2 separate regions of the Homo sapiens genome follow, and region 2 is linked to region 1. The links come from fine-mapping of genetic effects on gene expression. Tissue or cell type: gastroesophageal junction. Region 1 holds a variant in brackets; the other region holds the start of a gene. All regions are shown on one strand. Distances are from middle to middle.

The links. PIP is the estimated chance that this variant, and not a neighbour inherited with it, causes the effect.
Region 2: MIR762HG starts here. The variant in region 1 is fine-mapped to the expression of MIR762HG in gastroesophageal junction (GTEx, PIP 0.98).

What each region holds. Positions count from the first base shown.
Region 1 is chr16:31,355,471-31,363,570 of GRCh38, reverse strand. It overlaps ITGAX (integrin subunit alpha X), which reads right to left. Exons shown (of 30, transcript NM_000887.5): 2 at 7,573-7,678; 3 at 6,843-6,946; 4 at 6,470-6,540; 5 at 6,207-6,318; 6 at 3,741-3,871; 7 at 3,506-3,651; 8 at 3,108-3,261; 9 at 2,358-2,508; 10 at 1,662-1,735; 11 at 1,367-1,496; 12 at 818-960; 13 at 496-636; 14 at 197-406. It also overlaps the pseudogene LOC100422479. Among named protein-coding and RNA genes, the nearest start is that of ITGAX, 4.3 kb to the right of the region's middle. The variant C/T (reference allele first, on the strand shown) is at 3,724.
Region 2 is chr16:30,871,352-30,879,451 of GRCh38, reverse strand. It overlaps MIR762HG (MIR762 host gene), which reads right to left and starts at 3,992. Exons shown (of 3, transcript NR_110942.1): 1 at 3,966-3,992; 2 at 3,334-3,422. It overlaps MIR4519 (microRNA 4519), which reads left to right and starts at 4,129; the gene lies at 4,129-4,186. It also overlaps a transcript of BCL7C not described here. RefSeq lists a silencer at 3,220-3,279 and enhancers at 3,600-3,649, 3,680-3,889, 3,199-3,953, 4,160-4,419, 3,954-4,708 and 1 more.

The sequences.
Region 1 (8,100 bases):
TGGAGGCTGAGGCAGAGAATCGCTTGAACCTGGGAGGCGGAGGTTGCAGTGAGCTGAGACCACGCCACTGCTACAAGGTGCTCAGAGCTGGGCAAGGGAGGTAGGAAAAGGTAAAAAGGGACAGTTTTCCAGTATGACAGAGTGGGAGAGGCAAGAAGCAGGCTGCTCTAGTGACAGAAATGGGACACGGCCTCACCTGGCTGTGGGAGGGGCTGATGCTGGGTCCCAAGACTCCGTGAAACAGGTAGACAGCACCCCGGTTCTCCTCCTCTCCTGGGGCCCCGATGACCACGTCTGTCAGCTTGTCCCCATTCACATCCCCCAGCACTGTCAGAGCCGCCCCAAAGCGACCCCAGGGGTGGCCCTGCTCCCCGTAGAGAACAGCATCACACCACCACCTTCTCCACTGCAGAAAAAAAGCAGTGCCAGGCCCAACCCGGGCAACCCCTCCACCCACACCAGACCCCACCCACCCCAGGCCCATCAGCCACTCACCCCCCTGGGCAAGGGACACACAGACACCTGGCCCCCTCGGGTCTGCTCGTAGTAATGGGGGGCCCCGATGAGGACCAGGTCGGTGCTGCCGTCGCTGTCTACGTCCACGGAGCAGAGGGAGGCCCCGAAGTAGGAGCCGATCTGAAGGGCAGAGCCTGGGTCATGCTGCCTGTCCCTGCCAGAGGCAGCCCTGTGGGCCAGGTCCCACCTCTCCCCAGGTACCAGGACCTCCCCCAAGGCCCTCAAAGCCCCTCCATCCTCTCCTCTGCCCCAGCCACCTCCCCTACCCTCATCCTCCCCTCTGGCTCCTGTCACGCCCAACCTGAGTCCCCGTGACTTCGGCCTTCATCCTCCATTGCCTGGACACCTGGGTGAAGATGACAGCCTTCCCGGTGTGCTGGTAGCGGGGGGCCCCCAGGACCAGGCTCTGCACCCCTTTCCAGAGGGCCAGCTCGGTGGAGTAACCTGAGGGGCCCAGGCCTCAGCACAAAGGCCCCCATTCCCCCTCCCCAGAACCCTGGACCCCCACCCCGGGCAGCACAGCACCATCTCCCCTCCCCAGAACCCTGGACCCCACCCTGGGCAATGCAGCCCCCATCCTCTCTCCCCAGAACCCTGGAACCCACCCCAGGCAGCACAGCGCCCATCCCCTCTCCCCAGAACCCTGGACCCCCACCCCAGGCAGCACAGCCCCCATCCCCCCTCCCCAGAACCTGGAACCCACCCCGGGCAGCACAGTGCCCATCCTCCCTCCCCAGAAGCCTGGACCCCACCCTGGGCAGCACAGCCCCCATACCCCTTCCCCAGAACCCTGGACCCCACCCTGGGCAGTGCATCTCCCACCTGTCCCCAACCCCTGGCTGTTTCTCACCCAGGTAAGAGTCCCTCATGTCCACATTCTCCTGAGACATGTTGATGAAGGTAGGGCTCATATTTGGGGGGTACAGGAAGGCACCTCCAGACCAGGTGAAGCTCCCCACAGCCCCCAGAACGGGGCCATCCTGGGAGAAAAGGATTCCAGGGCTGAGCAGAGGCCGGAGCAGGAAGACAGCATGTACCAGAGATATGCCTTCCGCCTGCGCCTCTTACCCACCTGACACCCACCCTGGCCTTCCCTGCTCCCCCTCCCCTCACGGCACATCATCGGCCTAAGGGGCCCCACTCACAGGTGTGAACACAGCGCTGAAGCCCTCCTGTGCCATCTCCAATTCGAAGGAGCTACTGCTTGTGGTCTCCGTACCTGGGGGAAGGCATGACGCTTGAGTGCCAGGGAGGGAGACGGGCTTTGCCAGGTCCAAGAACACTTCAGCTTTAGGAGAAGCTAAGACTGGAGGCTACAGGGAGAGCTGGTGCCTGTGACAGGGACCAGGCTCTGCCCTCCAGATCAGCTCCGACTTCGGGGCCCCCCTCTGCTCCATGGATGTGGACAGCGATGGCAGCACCGATCTGGTCCTCATCAGGGCCCCCCACAGGTCTACAAGCAGACCCGAGGGGGCCAGGTGTCCGTGTGCCCCTTGCCCAGGGGAGTGAGTGGCTGGTGGGATGTGGGCTGGGTAGGGCCCGGTGTGGGTGGAAGGGTCTCCTGGGTTGGGCCTGGCACTGCTTTTTGTTCTGCAGTGGAGCCGGTGGTGGTGTGAGATCACTCTCTGTGGGGAGCAGGGCCATCCCTGGGGCCACTTTGGGGCAGCTCTGACAGTGCTGGGGGACGTCAGTGGGGACAAGCTGACAGACATGGCTATCGGGGTCCCGGGAAAGCAGGAGAACCGAGACGCTGTCTACCTGTTTCACGGAGCCTCGGGTTCTAAGTGGAAAGGTGTTAACGGCTGAGGATTCCCCAAGCGAAGAGCTCCCTTCAGACTCACCCTCAATGGCAAAGATCTTCTCCTTCAGTTGGTTTTGAATATCTTTCAGAGCATCAAAGTCCTCCACTTTAAATATGTGTTCCTGGGAGGGCTTCGATGCAATGTCATTTAATTCTTTCCAAGAATTTCTGTTTTGAAAAGCTAATCCAACCTGTCCCCAGAAAAGATCAACTCAGTAAAAATAATAAATCAAATGTGCCTGTGTGCACTGGGTGCAACATCTTCCAATAACCCCACAAGATCAACATGATCACACCCGGTGGACACAGGAGAAACACGAAGCCCGGACAGCATCAGGGAGTTTAGGAGAAAGGATCATGGTCTCCAGTCTGGGGCAGAGTTTTCATCCTTAAGGCAGTAAGAGCCGAGAGAGCTGGTGTTTCTATCCTTGAAAGGGATGTTGTTGGCGGTGGTTCACGCCTGTAATCCCTGTGCTTTGGGAGACCAAGGTGGCAGAATTGCTTAAGGCCAGGAATTTGAGACCAGCCTGGGCAACATAGCAAGACCCCATCTCAACCAAAAAGAAAATAGCCAGGCTTGATGGCACACACCTGTGGTCCCAGCTACTGGGGAGGCTGGGGTGGGAGGATCACTGGAGCCCAGGAGTTCAAGGCTGCAGTGAGCTAGGATTGCACCACTTCCTGGGTGATAGAGCAAGACCCTGTCTCAAAGAGAAAAGAACATACACAGAAAGGGGAGTTGCCCTGAGAGGAAGCCGTGGGAGAAGTGGGAAGCCATCCCACGCCCTACCCCAATTGCATAGCGGATGATGCCTGCTGCATCAGCCATGGGGATGACATCCTTATAATCCAGGCTGTCGCCTTCTTTCTTCCCATCAGTGATGACAATGAGAATTTTGGCGGCATCCCTACGGGCCCCATATGAGGCATGGAACAATCGGTGCCTATCAGGAAAGGAGAGGTCTTAGAGGCCTGTGAACCAAACCACACTAGCCCCTGGTGCCCTTGTGAAAATTAGAAGATGCCTTTTCCTTTGGGAGGCCCCAGTCCCACCCAGAGGCCCCAGCTTGGCAAGGGTATCACGGGCTGGATTTTGGTCCCTGCCTGTCCCCTTCTCGTGGAGACAGATGAGGCCCAAGGGAAGACCTGGGTGCTTTGGGACTGTGCCTGGAAGAAATCAGGACTCACACGACATTTTGGATGGCGGTGGCCGTGTATGTAAACCCTTGCAGCTGGTGAACAGAAGCCAACAGGCTGAGGGGGTTTGAGCTGCGCCTGAATTCCTCGAAAGTGAAGTGTGTTTGGAATTTGTTGGAGAACTGCATCAGGGAAAACTGGGAGAAGCACACAGGGCTGGGGCTGAGGCCATTTCACCAGGATCGAAGCACCCACCCCCAGCAGCCTCC[C/T]TCCCCCAAAGGCACACCTGGGTGCTGGGTCTCTGGAACTGGCTTATCACAGCTCTCACGAAGTTCATCATCGTGGCAAAGTTGCGGGAGGAGATGCTGCCTGAGCCATCGATCAGGAACACAATGTCCTGCTCCTGTCTTGGGCACTCTGGGGAAGGAGGTGGCACCGGTCCTCCAAGTGACACTCCTGGAGTCCAGGACCGTGGCCTCCTGGCCACAAGAGCTCACTCTCCCAAAACCCTTCCTCCCCTAAGCCCCTAGTCTGGCGATGGGAGTCAGGCTCCACACCCTGGGTCCTCTCCTCATCAGGGGCAGAGCTTCCCTAACCCCTTGCCTGGAACAAGGCCCTTCATTCTCTTAAAGTTGCCTAAAGAGGCTGTGATGAGCCAGGCGTGGTGGCTCACGCCTGTAATCCCAGTACTTTGGGAGGCCGAGGGGGGCGGATCACGAGGTCAGGAGATCGAGACCATCCTGGCCCACATGGTGAAACCCCGTCTCTACTAAAAATACAAAAATTAGGTGGGTGTGGTGGCACGCGCCTGTGGTCCCAACTACTTGGGAGGCAGAGGCAGAATTGCTTGAACCTGGGAGGTGGAGGTTGCAGTGAGCTGAGATCGCACCACAGCACTCCAACCTGGCAACAGAGTGAGGCTCCATCTCAAAAAAATAAAAAATGAAAAAGGCTGTGATGAAGCTGCTCAGCCCCATCAACAAAAGAGTGAAGGTCAGACTGGGTGCAGTGACTTACTCCTATAATCCAAGCACTTTGGGAGGCCTAGGCAGGAGAATTGCTTGAGCCCAGGATTTCAAGATCAGCCTGGACAGCATAGTTAGACCTCACATCTACTAAAAATTGTTAAAAATCAGCTGGGCATGGTAGCTCTTCTCTGTGGTCCCAGCTACTCTGGAGGCTGAGGTGGGAGGATCACTTGAGCCCAGGAGTTGGAGGCTGCAGTGAGCTGTGATTGTACCACTGCACTCCAGCCTCAGTGACAGAGTAAGACTATCTCTAAAAAAAAAGAAAAAAAAAAAAACCAGGAAGATTTCTCCAATTCAGACGGTAGGAAGCAGAGGGCCTACCCCTCCACCACCCTGGATATCTGTGCCCCTCCCTGGACCCACCCCTCCTTCCTCCCTCAATGTCACCCCATCCAGCAATGACACAAACTGGCACCAGTCCCTAGCCAGTGTTTGTCCTCACTGCTCAGTGCTGAATGGTAGTTTTGTTAAATTTCTTTTTTTAATTGAGATGGAGTCTCACTCTGTCACCCAGGCTGGAGTGCAGTGGTGTGATCAAAGCTCCCTACAGCCTCCAACTCCTGGGCTCAAGCGATTCTCCTGCCTCAGCCTCCCCAGTAGTTAGGACTAGAGGTATGTAACAGCATGCCAAGCTACTTTGTATTTTATATTTATTTTTTGTAGAGATGAGGTCTCACTATGTTGCCCAGGCTGGTCTCAAACTCCAGGCCTCAAACAACCCTCTTGCCTTGATTGTTAATATTTTAAACAAATCATCCCAGGCAACAGCCACACACTGGGCCTGTTCTGTTCTCAGCTTAAATACAGGCCCCCACTCCCCTCCTGTGTGAAGTTAGCATCTGTCCTGAGAAGAGACGATCTTCCAGCACCTGGAGAGGAAACCCCCTTCCATGTGACCTCTCAAGCATCCCCTCTGCCCCAGAGGCCTCCACCGGAGAGACAGGTGTCCTGGGCATTCTGATGGGTGCCCAGGCCCCTGTGGATGGAGTCTGGACCCACGGAGGTGCTGGAAGGCACACCCTATTTGCAGCCAGATGTCAGTCTCACCAAAGGCTTGAGAGCAAATGTGAAACCAGGGGGAGGCCTCAGCCTGCCAAAGCCCACTGTTTTGCTTCCTTATCTTTCTTCCCCATCAGCACCAGGGAAGTCAGGCCCTGCGTCTCAACCTGCATGTGCACACGCACACACACATACATGCACACACATGCATGTACATGTGTGCATGTGCACATGTATACACATGCATACATATACACACATGTACACACACACACGTTGCTCACACTGCACTTTCACTGACCTTTCCTAAACTACGGCACAAACCAATTGGTCATATCCCAGGACCCATTGGATGAAAATAGATCCTCTCCTCTAAAAATAACAACAGCTGGCCTTCATGGGGCTGTCGCCTGGTGCTAGCTGCTGTGCTAACCCCTGGCCATGAATCATCCTGTGTTGCTTTCAGTGCTGGGTGTGTTATTATCCCCATCCAACAGATGAAGAAACTGAGGCTTGGAGAGGTTAAGGTCACAGGAAAGGTCCGGCAGCGTGCGGGCGATCGGCAGGATGTGCGGGCAGCAGCGTCAGGAACCACTGCAACACGTGGTAACTCTTTTTCCAGATCCCTTCTTTCTGATCCACTCTGGCAAGACTGTCTCTAGCCCACCGCACCCCCAATTGGATGTGCGTGAGCTCCTCAAAGCCTTGGTGGTCCCGACACTCACCCTGCCTGGACACCGGGAGCCTCTGGGTGAGCTGGGTGGGGCCCAGGAGGAAGCAGAGTCCGGTGAGGTACATGTTCCTCCCGCACTCGTGGTGCACGGTGGGGCCGCAGGCCTGGGGACACAGCGGGCTGCTGGGGGGCTGCCCCTGCTTCCTCCCACCCTCACATTCCGGAACCTCCACCCTACAGGAGACTCCCAGCCCCCCGCGGCCCCGGCTCCTCCCTCCCTCCCTCAGAAGCCTCCTGTGACCCAGGGCCACTCACCAGCAGCTGGGAAGGGCTGGTGGTAGACGCCAGGGACAGGCCCAGGGACATGTTCACGGCCTCCGGGGGCACTGTGGGGACAGATATGTGCATGGTCACTCTCGGGGGTACAGAGAAGGCTGTGGAAGAGCTGGGCAGGGGTCACCTCCACCTGGGAGACAAGGAGGTCTGACGGTGAAGGAAGCTGTCGGGTCTTGACAGAGCTGCGGGAGTGCGATGGGCGGGGAGGCCTTAAGGGGCCAGGAAGCATATCTGAGGGTGAGGGTCTCAGACACAGTGGAAGCTGAAAGTGACACTCCGGTGAGTCCACGGGCCCCTGGAGCAGGGAAGCCTGGGAGCCCGGCCCTGGGTCCCGGGAGGGGCGGTGACTCACCCTGCAGGCCGATGGGCTCACAGGCACCAGTGCTGTAGCCACACTGGTAGAGGCCACCCGTTTGGTTGGCAGCTGTTATCTTTTGGGGGGCTCCAACCACCACCCTGCGAGGAGACAAAGAACACTTTAGGTAAGAGTGTGGACGCTGCAGCACAGCTGCCACTCCGGCAAGTTTGCGTTCCCTCCCTGAGCCTCAGCTTCCTCATCTGCAAGATGGATTTTAATAATTTAAAGTCCATGTGGAAGGGATTTCTGTCTGTTGGATTCTCTGGCGTATGGAGACAAGAAATATTTGTTGAGTCTGGGTGTGGTGGCTCACACCTGGAATCCCAGCACTTTGGGAGGCTGAGGCGGGAGGATTGCTTGAGCCCAGGAGTTTGAGACCAACCCAGGCAACATAGTGAGACCCTGTCTCTATATATTTTTAAATGTATAGAAAAAAAGAAAGAAAAAACAAATAAGTGTTTGTTGCACGACTGATTCCTACTCACAGGCTGTCGTGTGGACTAAATCAGCATCCACCTGTGATGAGCCTGGCACTGCACTTACTGCTCTGTAAATGTTAGCTGTGAGACCGTGCCTGCCTTCAAGGCAAATCTTCATTAGCCAGGGCAGTCGCTACACCAGACAGAGAGGAGAGTTTGCAAATAACAGGGCAGGGCCGGGGGCATGGGGCCCTGAGCAGGGAGAGGATGGATGGAGCCAAAGGCCAGCACCACCTGGGCCTCACCAGGAGTTGGCATACTGGACCACGCTGTCTCCAAACCCAGCGCTGTCCACACGGAAGGCTGTCAGCTCCTCTGTGTCCAAGTTGAAACCTAGAGAAGTTGCTAAGGCTGGGAAAGAGGTGGGAAGAGAGCTTTGGAGAAGGGTCTTCCTTCTGCCTGGCTGCCCTCCACCCCCGGCCCCAGCGTCCCAATCTCCCCTCCGAGCCTGATGCCCGGGGTGCCTGGGTCTTCTGGACACCCAACTCATCCCCTTCTCTCCTTCCCAGGGTCCAGGGATGCCCCTTGCCCACCATCCACTATCGAGTTGCAGTTCTCCATTTCTGCAGAGCAGTACCCAGGCTCTAAAAAGGATCTTTCCCCAACGTGCACCTCGGGCGCTATGAGAGTGAGTCCAGGAAAACTTGCGGACCAAAGCATCCTGTCCACAGAGCACAAGTTGGCGCATTCTGCCTATTTTAAAAATCTCTGCAGTACAGAGACAACTGGCCTCTCTTCCAGCATCTCTGGAACTCTCCCAAAATTGGTTCATC
Region 2 (8,100 bases), 480 kb after region 1:
TCCGGATTATTGTGTGAATCAGTAGTTTGTTCCTTTTTACTGCTAAATTATATTCCATAGGCCAGGATCACTCTGCTGGGTGGAGAAGAGATGGGCCCTGCCAGGGCTCAGAGACTCAGGTGAATGCACCACAGGGAGATGGACAGCCTTTTCTTAGGAATTTCTAGAATGCGAAGTCTGTGGCATCAGTCTCCCCAAAAATCTGGGAAAACAGAACTACATCAGGAGAATCTAGCATGACCAAGCATCCCTGTTTGCCCAGGACTTTCTTGGTTTTAGCACTGCAGGTTCCATGTCCCAGGAGACACCCCAGTCTTGAGCAAACTGGGATGGCTGATCACCATCACCCTAGCAGGATCCTGCCACTGCCCTTGGGGCTTCCGGACCCTTTTCACACAAGATTACATTCTGTTCCTCCTACAGAATGATTTTCCTTAAACTCTAAACTGGGCTCCTCTCCTGTTCTAAAACTTCCCATGGCTCCCCATGGCTGAGCCTGGCAACTGAAAGCACGTAGTCTCTGGTAGTGTGCATACTGGAATCACCTGGGGAATCATTTAAATATTCTGATGGCTGCCTTCTACCCTTGACATTTTTTTTTTTTTTTTTGAGACGGAGTCTCGCTTTGTCACCCAGGCTGGAGTGCAGTGGCACGATCTCAGCTCACTGCAACCTCTGCCTCCCGGGTTCAAGTGATTCTTCTGCCTCAGCCTCCTGAGTAGCTGGGATTACAGGTGCGTGCCACCACGCCCAGCTAATTTTTGTATTTTTAGTAGAGACTGGGTTTCACCATGTTGGTCAGGCTGGTCTCAAGCTCCTGACCTCGTGATCCACCCACCTCGGCCTCCCAGAGTGCCAGGATTACAGGCGTGAGCCACCACGCCCAGCCACCCCAGACATTTTTGTTTTTTTTGAAATAGAGTCTCGCTCTGTCGCCCAGGCTGGAGTGCAGTGGCACGATCTCGGCTCATTGCAACCTCTGCCTCCTGGGTTCAAGTGATTCTCCTGCCTCAGCCTCCCGAGTAGCTGGGACTACAGGCGCGTGCCACCACACCCAGCTAATTTTTTTAAATTTTTTTATTTTTAGTAGAGACGGGGTTTCACCGTGTTAGCCAGGATGGTCTCAATCTCCTGACCTTGTGATCCGTCTCCCTCGGCCTCCCAAAGTGCTGGGATTACAGGCATGAGCCACCACACCCGGCCCCACCCCAGACATTTTACATTGGTATCATGTGCAACCTGGGCCCTGGGATTTTTTGTTTTGTTTTGTTTTTTTGAGTCTTGAGTTTAGCTCTATCGCCCAGGCTGCAGTGCAGTGGCATGATCTTGGGTCACTGCAACCTCCGCCTCCCAGGTTCAAGCCATTCTCGTGCCTCAGCCTCCCAAGTAGCTGGGATTACAGGTGCCTGCCACCACACCCGGCTAATTTTTGTATTTTTAGTAGAGATGGGGTTTCACCATGTTGTCCAGGCTGGTCTCGAACTCCTGACCTCAGGTGATCCACCCGCCTTGGCCTCCCAAAGTGCTGAGATTACAGGCATCAGCCACTGCGCCCGGCCAAGGGCCCTGGGATTTTTACAAGCTCCTCAGGTGATGCTAACATGCTGCAAAGCTTGGAGCTGTGAGCCTGTGAATGTGATTTGTTTGGCTTACATGGTGTTGAACATGTTGGCAACATTAAAATCAAGTGATTTCATATAAAAATCTGGACTAGGCTGGGCGCGGTGGCTCACGCCTGTAATCCCAGCACTTTGGGAGGCCGAGGCGGGTGGATCACGAGGTCAGGAGATCGAGACCATCCTGGCTAACACGGTGAAACCCCATCTCTACTAAAAATACAACAAATTAGCTGGGCGCGGTGGCGGGTGCCTGTAGTCCCAGCTACTCGGGAGGCTGAGGCAGGAGAATGGCCTGAACCCAGGAGGCGGAGCTTGCAGTGAGCCGAGATAGTGCCACTGCACTCGGGCCTGGTGAAAGAGCGAGACTCCGTCTCAAAAAAAAAAAAAAAATCTGGACTCAGGCCGGGTGACGTGCCTCACACTGTAACCCCAGCACTTTGGGAGGCTGAGGCAGGAGGACTGCTTGAGCCTAGGAGTTGAGGCTACAGTGAGCTATGTGTTGCTACCCTTCAACCTGCGCGACAGAGCAAGATCCTGTCTCTACCAAAAATAAAAAAAGAAATCTGGACTCCAGCTACCCTTGAAAGCAGATATTCTGAGATACTGAGTTTGCCTCCTGGAGTGGTCATGGGGCGGAGGTTGGTGGGGTAGGGGGGTAGGGGGTGCAGAACACTGACTGCCCTGGGGGCGGAGTCTCTGCCCTTCAGTCCCCGCAATCCCTACCGCTCCCTGGTGTTCCACTCTCCTCCTTGCTGTTCACTTGCATGGCCTCCAGGCTAATGGCTGAGTTTTGCGGCCAGGCATTTCAGGCCTCCCAGCCTTGGCCTCTGCTCACCTTCTCCACCTCCTCACTCCCTGCTCTAGTCATCTTCATCTCATGTCCTGCCCTCCAGCCACATGGGCTTCTTGGTCCCTTCCACACCTGTTTTTGCCCATGGAGTTCTCCCACCAAGTTCCTTATGGTAGAAAAGCCCCTGCTGGATTTGGCCCCTGCCCACCTCTCCTGCCCCTTTCCCCAAGCTTTCTTCCAACTCATGCATAGAACTTCTACCACAAGGAAGCTGGCCAGGCTGTTAGCACTCCCGTTCCCTCTGTCTGTGAAGCCCTTTCCTTCCCTCCACCCTCCCCTTCTCTCTCTTATCTCAGGCTTTGGGTTTGATTTCACCTCCTCCAAGGTTCCCTGACCTTCAAACTAGGTCAGGTCCCTGGTTAGTCACTATACTTCCTCTTTCTCACCTCCTTCATCTCACTTCCCCTGCTAGAATAAGGCCACATCTGTCTCATAATCTCTGTCTTCCTAGGGCCTAGTGTGGTGCCTGGCATACAGTAGGTGCTCATTAATGATAAATGAATGAAAGCAAGCACATCTCCCTTTCTCTACTGGCAAAATCCTAATCCTTTTCTGGTTACATTTCTCCTGTAGCATCCAATTCTGTTCTCGAGACCCAAAAGATCCCTGAGGTCCTGTGATCAATGGAGTTTTAGCTCAGGTCCATTTCACAGTGGGCCCAGGGGATCCCCAGATTCATCCGTGGTTATTTCCCCAGGCACAGAGTGAGTGCACTGGTGGCACAGGCATACCCAGCAAGTGGCATAATCCCCCCCATTAGTTAACTGGGTGTCGCTGTGCATGGCTGTGAAGGCAGGGATGCACCTGGCTGGTGACCCCAGAACCCCTCCGGGTACGGCACAAGGGCAGAGCCCAAGAACTTACTTTCTGTCCTCTTGCATTTGCCTGTGGATTTGCAGTTGGTAATGGCGTTCTTGCCCGGCCCTCCTTTGTTCCTCCAGGCAGCCAGGCAGCTGTGGCGTAGTGAAAGGGCAGGATGCGGGATAGGAATGGAGTTATTCCTGATTCAGACTGATTTGCTCTAACTGTGATTTGGGGCAAGTCCCTTCCCCTGTCTAGACCTTAGCTGGCTGCCGCATCTAAAAAATGGAGCCAATAATCTTTTCCTCGTCTTTGGGGTCATCCATCTTTCAACCACATCAGGAGCAGCGGGAACCAAGTGCAGAGGATGGCCTTAAAAGCAGTATGGGAACCAAATTTTTGTAAAGTAAATATTTTCAACCTTTATATTTTGGAATCACCAGCGGTATTTATTACGTGCACTCTAGGAAATGGAGGCAATGCAATGCCAAAAACAGAAAGTAAAACTGCTGTCCTGTGCCGCGGCCCGGTGGAGGTTTTAATGTCTGTATCTTAAGATCTGGTGAGGGCACGGGTAGGTGCGGCTGGACTGAGTGAAACCAGCCCCGCTGGGCGCCTGGGCCCTTGTCTCAGGGCTGTGCTCGCAGTGGAGGCATCTGCAGCTCGGCACCCAGAGGCCCCGCGACCCTTCCAACCTTTGTGACGCTCCGCGGAGACAAAGGCCGGCGGCGCAGCCTTGGGAAGGGTTAAGGCCACAGACGCAGCCCTGCGCGTGCTAGAGCGGCCGGTGGCGGACTTCCGGTTGGGGCGCGGGCGCGCGCCGCGTGTTCCCGACCCGCCGAGGCTGAGACCTCGGGCAACCTCAGCAGTGCGCAGGGCTGCACTGTCTCCGTCTGCGGCCTGCAGTAAGCGGGTAGGGGATATGTCGCGTGGCCTCGCCTGGTCTGCGGCGGGAAACTCGCATCTAGGCCAGACCCTCCCGCAGGGTCCGCACTCGCGATCTGGGCTGTGGGCAGCATCGTGGCCCCTCGGGGCGTTATAGGGGCGTGAGGATCCCGGGCGAGCTGGGGGCGGGCGGCTTCTTCAGCTCCCTTGCGCCATGGAACCCACTGTATGCCCGTTATGCAGTCAGGAAAGATGAGGCCGGGAAGGAGGGCGTTACGCTGCAACCCCGGAGACCAGCTGTCCCTCGCGTTGCCGCAGTCGGCAGAGGCGTGGCCGGAGCCATTCCCGGTCTCCAGTGCGGCTGCAAGAGCGGGCGCCCGAGGGCGTTCTGCTCCGGGCCTCCACCCGCGAGCTGACCGTGTCAGGCGCGCCACACACGGCGCTTCTCATTCTCTCTCCACCTCGCGAGGCAGAAGCTGCCGTTCCCGTGTCACAGACAGAAAAACAGTCTGGGGTGATTTATCCGGAGTCAAGACTCAGGTCTGTGGCTCAGTCGGGAAGGATAGAAACCCAAGCTTCCTCCGAATGGTTCAGAGACCCGACCAAGTTAAATAATAATGGCCCTGGCTCAGGGGTCTTTAAGTCTTCCCCCCGCCCTCCCCTTTTGTTTTTGTTTTGTTTTGAGACCGCCTCACTGTCCCCCAGGCTGGAGTGCAGCGGTGCGATCTCCGCTCACTGCAGCTTCGACCTCCCGAGGGCTCAGGTGATCCTCCCACCTCAACCTCAGGAGTGTCTGGGACTACAAACACGCGCCACCACGCCCGGCTAATTTTTCTGTTTTTTGTAGAGTCAGGATCTCGCTATGTTGTCCAGGCTGGTCTGGAACTCCTGGGCTCAAGCGATCCTCCTGCCTCGGCCTCTGAAAGTGCTGGGATTACAGGCATGAGCCACCGCACCTGGCTACCCTTTAATTAACTCAAGGAGTTTAATAATTGAATTTAGGCTGGGCTCAGTGGCTCACGCCTGTAATCCTAGCACTTTAAGAGGCCACGTCGGGCAGATCACTTGAGGTCAGGAGTTCAAGACCAGTCTGGCCAACATGGTGAAACCCTGTCTCTACTAAAAATACAAAAATTAGACGGATGTGGTGCCACACACCTGTAATCCCAGCTACTCGGGAGGCTGAGGCAGGAGAATCCCTTGAACCCGGGAGGCAGAGGTTGCAGTGAGCCAAGATCGCACCACTGCACTCTAGCCTGGGCCACAGAGCAAGAATCTGTCTCAAAAAAAAAAAAAAAGGTTTGACACCTATACCTTCCTCTGTGTGTGTGTGTGTGTGTGTATACATATATCTATATATATATGTATATAGAGAGAGGAGGAAAAATTATATAATTTTTCTATATGTGTGTGTGTGTATATATATCTGTACAATTTTTTTTTTTTTTGAGACAGTGTAGCTCTGTGGCCCAGGATGGAGTGCAGGGACTCGATCTCGGCTCACTGCAACCTCCGCCTCCCAGGTTCAAGCGATTCTCCTGCCTCAGCCTCCCGAGTAGCTGGGATTACAGGCTGCTGCTACCATGCCTGGGTAATTTTTGTATTTTTAGTAGAGACAGGGTTTTGCTATGTTGCCCAGGCTGGTCTGGAACTCCTGAGCTCAAAAGTGATCTGCCTGCCCCAGCCTCCCCAAATGCTGGGATTACAGGTCTGAGCCATCACACCCGGCCCATATATACGTATTTTAAAATAACACCTTTACTGAGAGAGATGACTCACACACCATACAACTCACCCATTTAAAGTGTACAGTTCAATGATTCTTAGTATCTTCACAGTTTTGCAAATATCACCACAGTCAATTTTAGAACATTTTCATTACCCCTAAAAGAAACCATACCCATTAACAGTAACTCCCAAGCCTTCCTCCCACTACAGCTCTAGACTACTGCAAATCTACTTTCTGTCTCTATAGAGTTGATTATTTTGGACATTTCATATTAGGGCTTTATGTGGCCTTTTTTGACTGAGATAACCTTTTTGTTGTTGTTTTTAACAAAATCAACTCCTTGAGCTCAGAGCCCTGGCCTATAATCATAGCCAGCTAGAACTGAACAGCATTGTTTTGGTTTTATTGTATCTATTTTTACCACTCTTGGGTACATGATAATTTCTCATTTATGGCAGTGGTTAAAGTTTCCTTTTGAATACACCTAGTTCCATCAAAACGTGAGTTGATAATTTTTAAAGAACAAGATTAAGTAAACAGAAGTAGAGGTGGTCCACAAATTTGTCAGAGGTTGGGAAGATGGGATGTGAATGAAGTTTGGCAAACACTGGATTGTCTGATTTACGGTTCTCCAGGTCATCATTTGAAAACCACCCTCACCTTATTCTTTCATTGCATTTTCCTGACAACTCCTGTAAAGAAGTGCATGATTTTACCGATGAAGAAACAGGTTCAGAGAAGTCAGGTACAATTACTTGTCCAGTGTCACACAGCTAGTGACAGAAGCTAGGCTTAACCAAGTCTGTCTGATTGCCAAAACTACCTACTTACCAAGTCTGGAAGTAGGATAGGGGGTGGGGAATGGACTAGCAGGCTTGAGAGGGGACTCTGGCCACTACCCAAAACATGCGGGCACCAGGCTGCCTGAGTTGTTTTGGGTACCTCTTCTAACAAATATTCAAATATTTCTATGAAACAATTTATGACTCTAAACAGAAATCCCATCTCATTTGCCACTGGGGCTTTCACCCTCTCTCAACGGCACACCGCAGTTCAGGAAGTGCTGCCTGCCTGGAGAATGAGGGTGTGTGTGAACGTGCGTGCTGGTGGTGAGGAGAGTCTGATCTCTAGTTCATCTTGGTTGCTACTGGCATCACTTTCCAAGCCCACAGGGGTCCCTTACACTCCATGACTTCTGCCCTATTCCACCTGTGGGCACCAGAGTCTCTAGGCTGGCTGGGATTACCTGCATATAGGGTCCCATGTTTCTGGAATGTCAGGCCGCCACCTGCTCTCAGGACTGACCACTTTCCTGGAGCACAGCCGCAGGGTATTCACCATGACTCCCTCTCTCCCCTTCCTGGCCAAGGACTTTCCCACCTCTTGCCATCATCTTCATCAGAACTCTGCCTCCTCCCTCAGACCCTATTCCTCATCTTATTCTTTCCCTGTGGGCTTTAACTGACCATTAAATTCAGAACCCATTCCAATAACACGAATATCCTTTTCCAGAGAGAGCTTAATTTTATACCTTAATTTTTGAAATTATAGCATATAGAAGATAAGCAAAACAACCAGGTCCTGCCATGCTCTTGTTCAACACCGATTTAACTCAGTCCACCTCTCTCACAGCTGTGCAATTCAACTTGACCCAAACTTGAGGCTAAGCACCTCCAGACAGGATGATTAGGGTCCATCTGGTCTCACTCAACTTAGGTGAGAATCTCAACCCTAAATCCAAGCAATTATCTGAGTAATTCTGGACCCTATAAAACAAAATAGTGGCCGGGTGCGATGGCTCACACCTGTAATCCCAGCACTTTGGGAGGCCAAGGTAGGCAGATCACCTGAGGTCAGGAGTTCAAGACCAGCCTGGCCAACATGGTGAAACCCTGTCTCTACTAAAAATGCAAAAATAAGCCAGGTGTGGTGGTGCCTGCCTGTAGTCCCAGCTACTCAGGAGGCTGAGGCAGGAGAATCACTGGAACCCGGGAGGTGAAGGTTGCAGTGAGCCAAGATCGTACCACTGCACTCCAGCCTGGGCGACAGAGTGAGACTCAGTCTCAAAAAAAAAAGCTAACATTGAGCTAGGTGAATATTCTCAGAGCACTACATGCATAATCTTACAAAATCATTTCAATAACTTAGTGAGGTAAGTACTCTTATTATTTCCACTTGACAGATGAGAAAAGCAAGGCACAGAGAAGTGAAGTCAC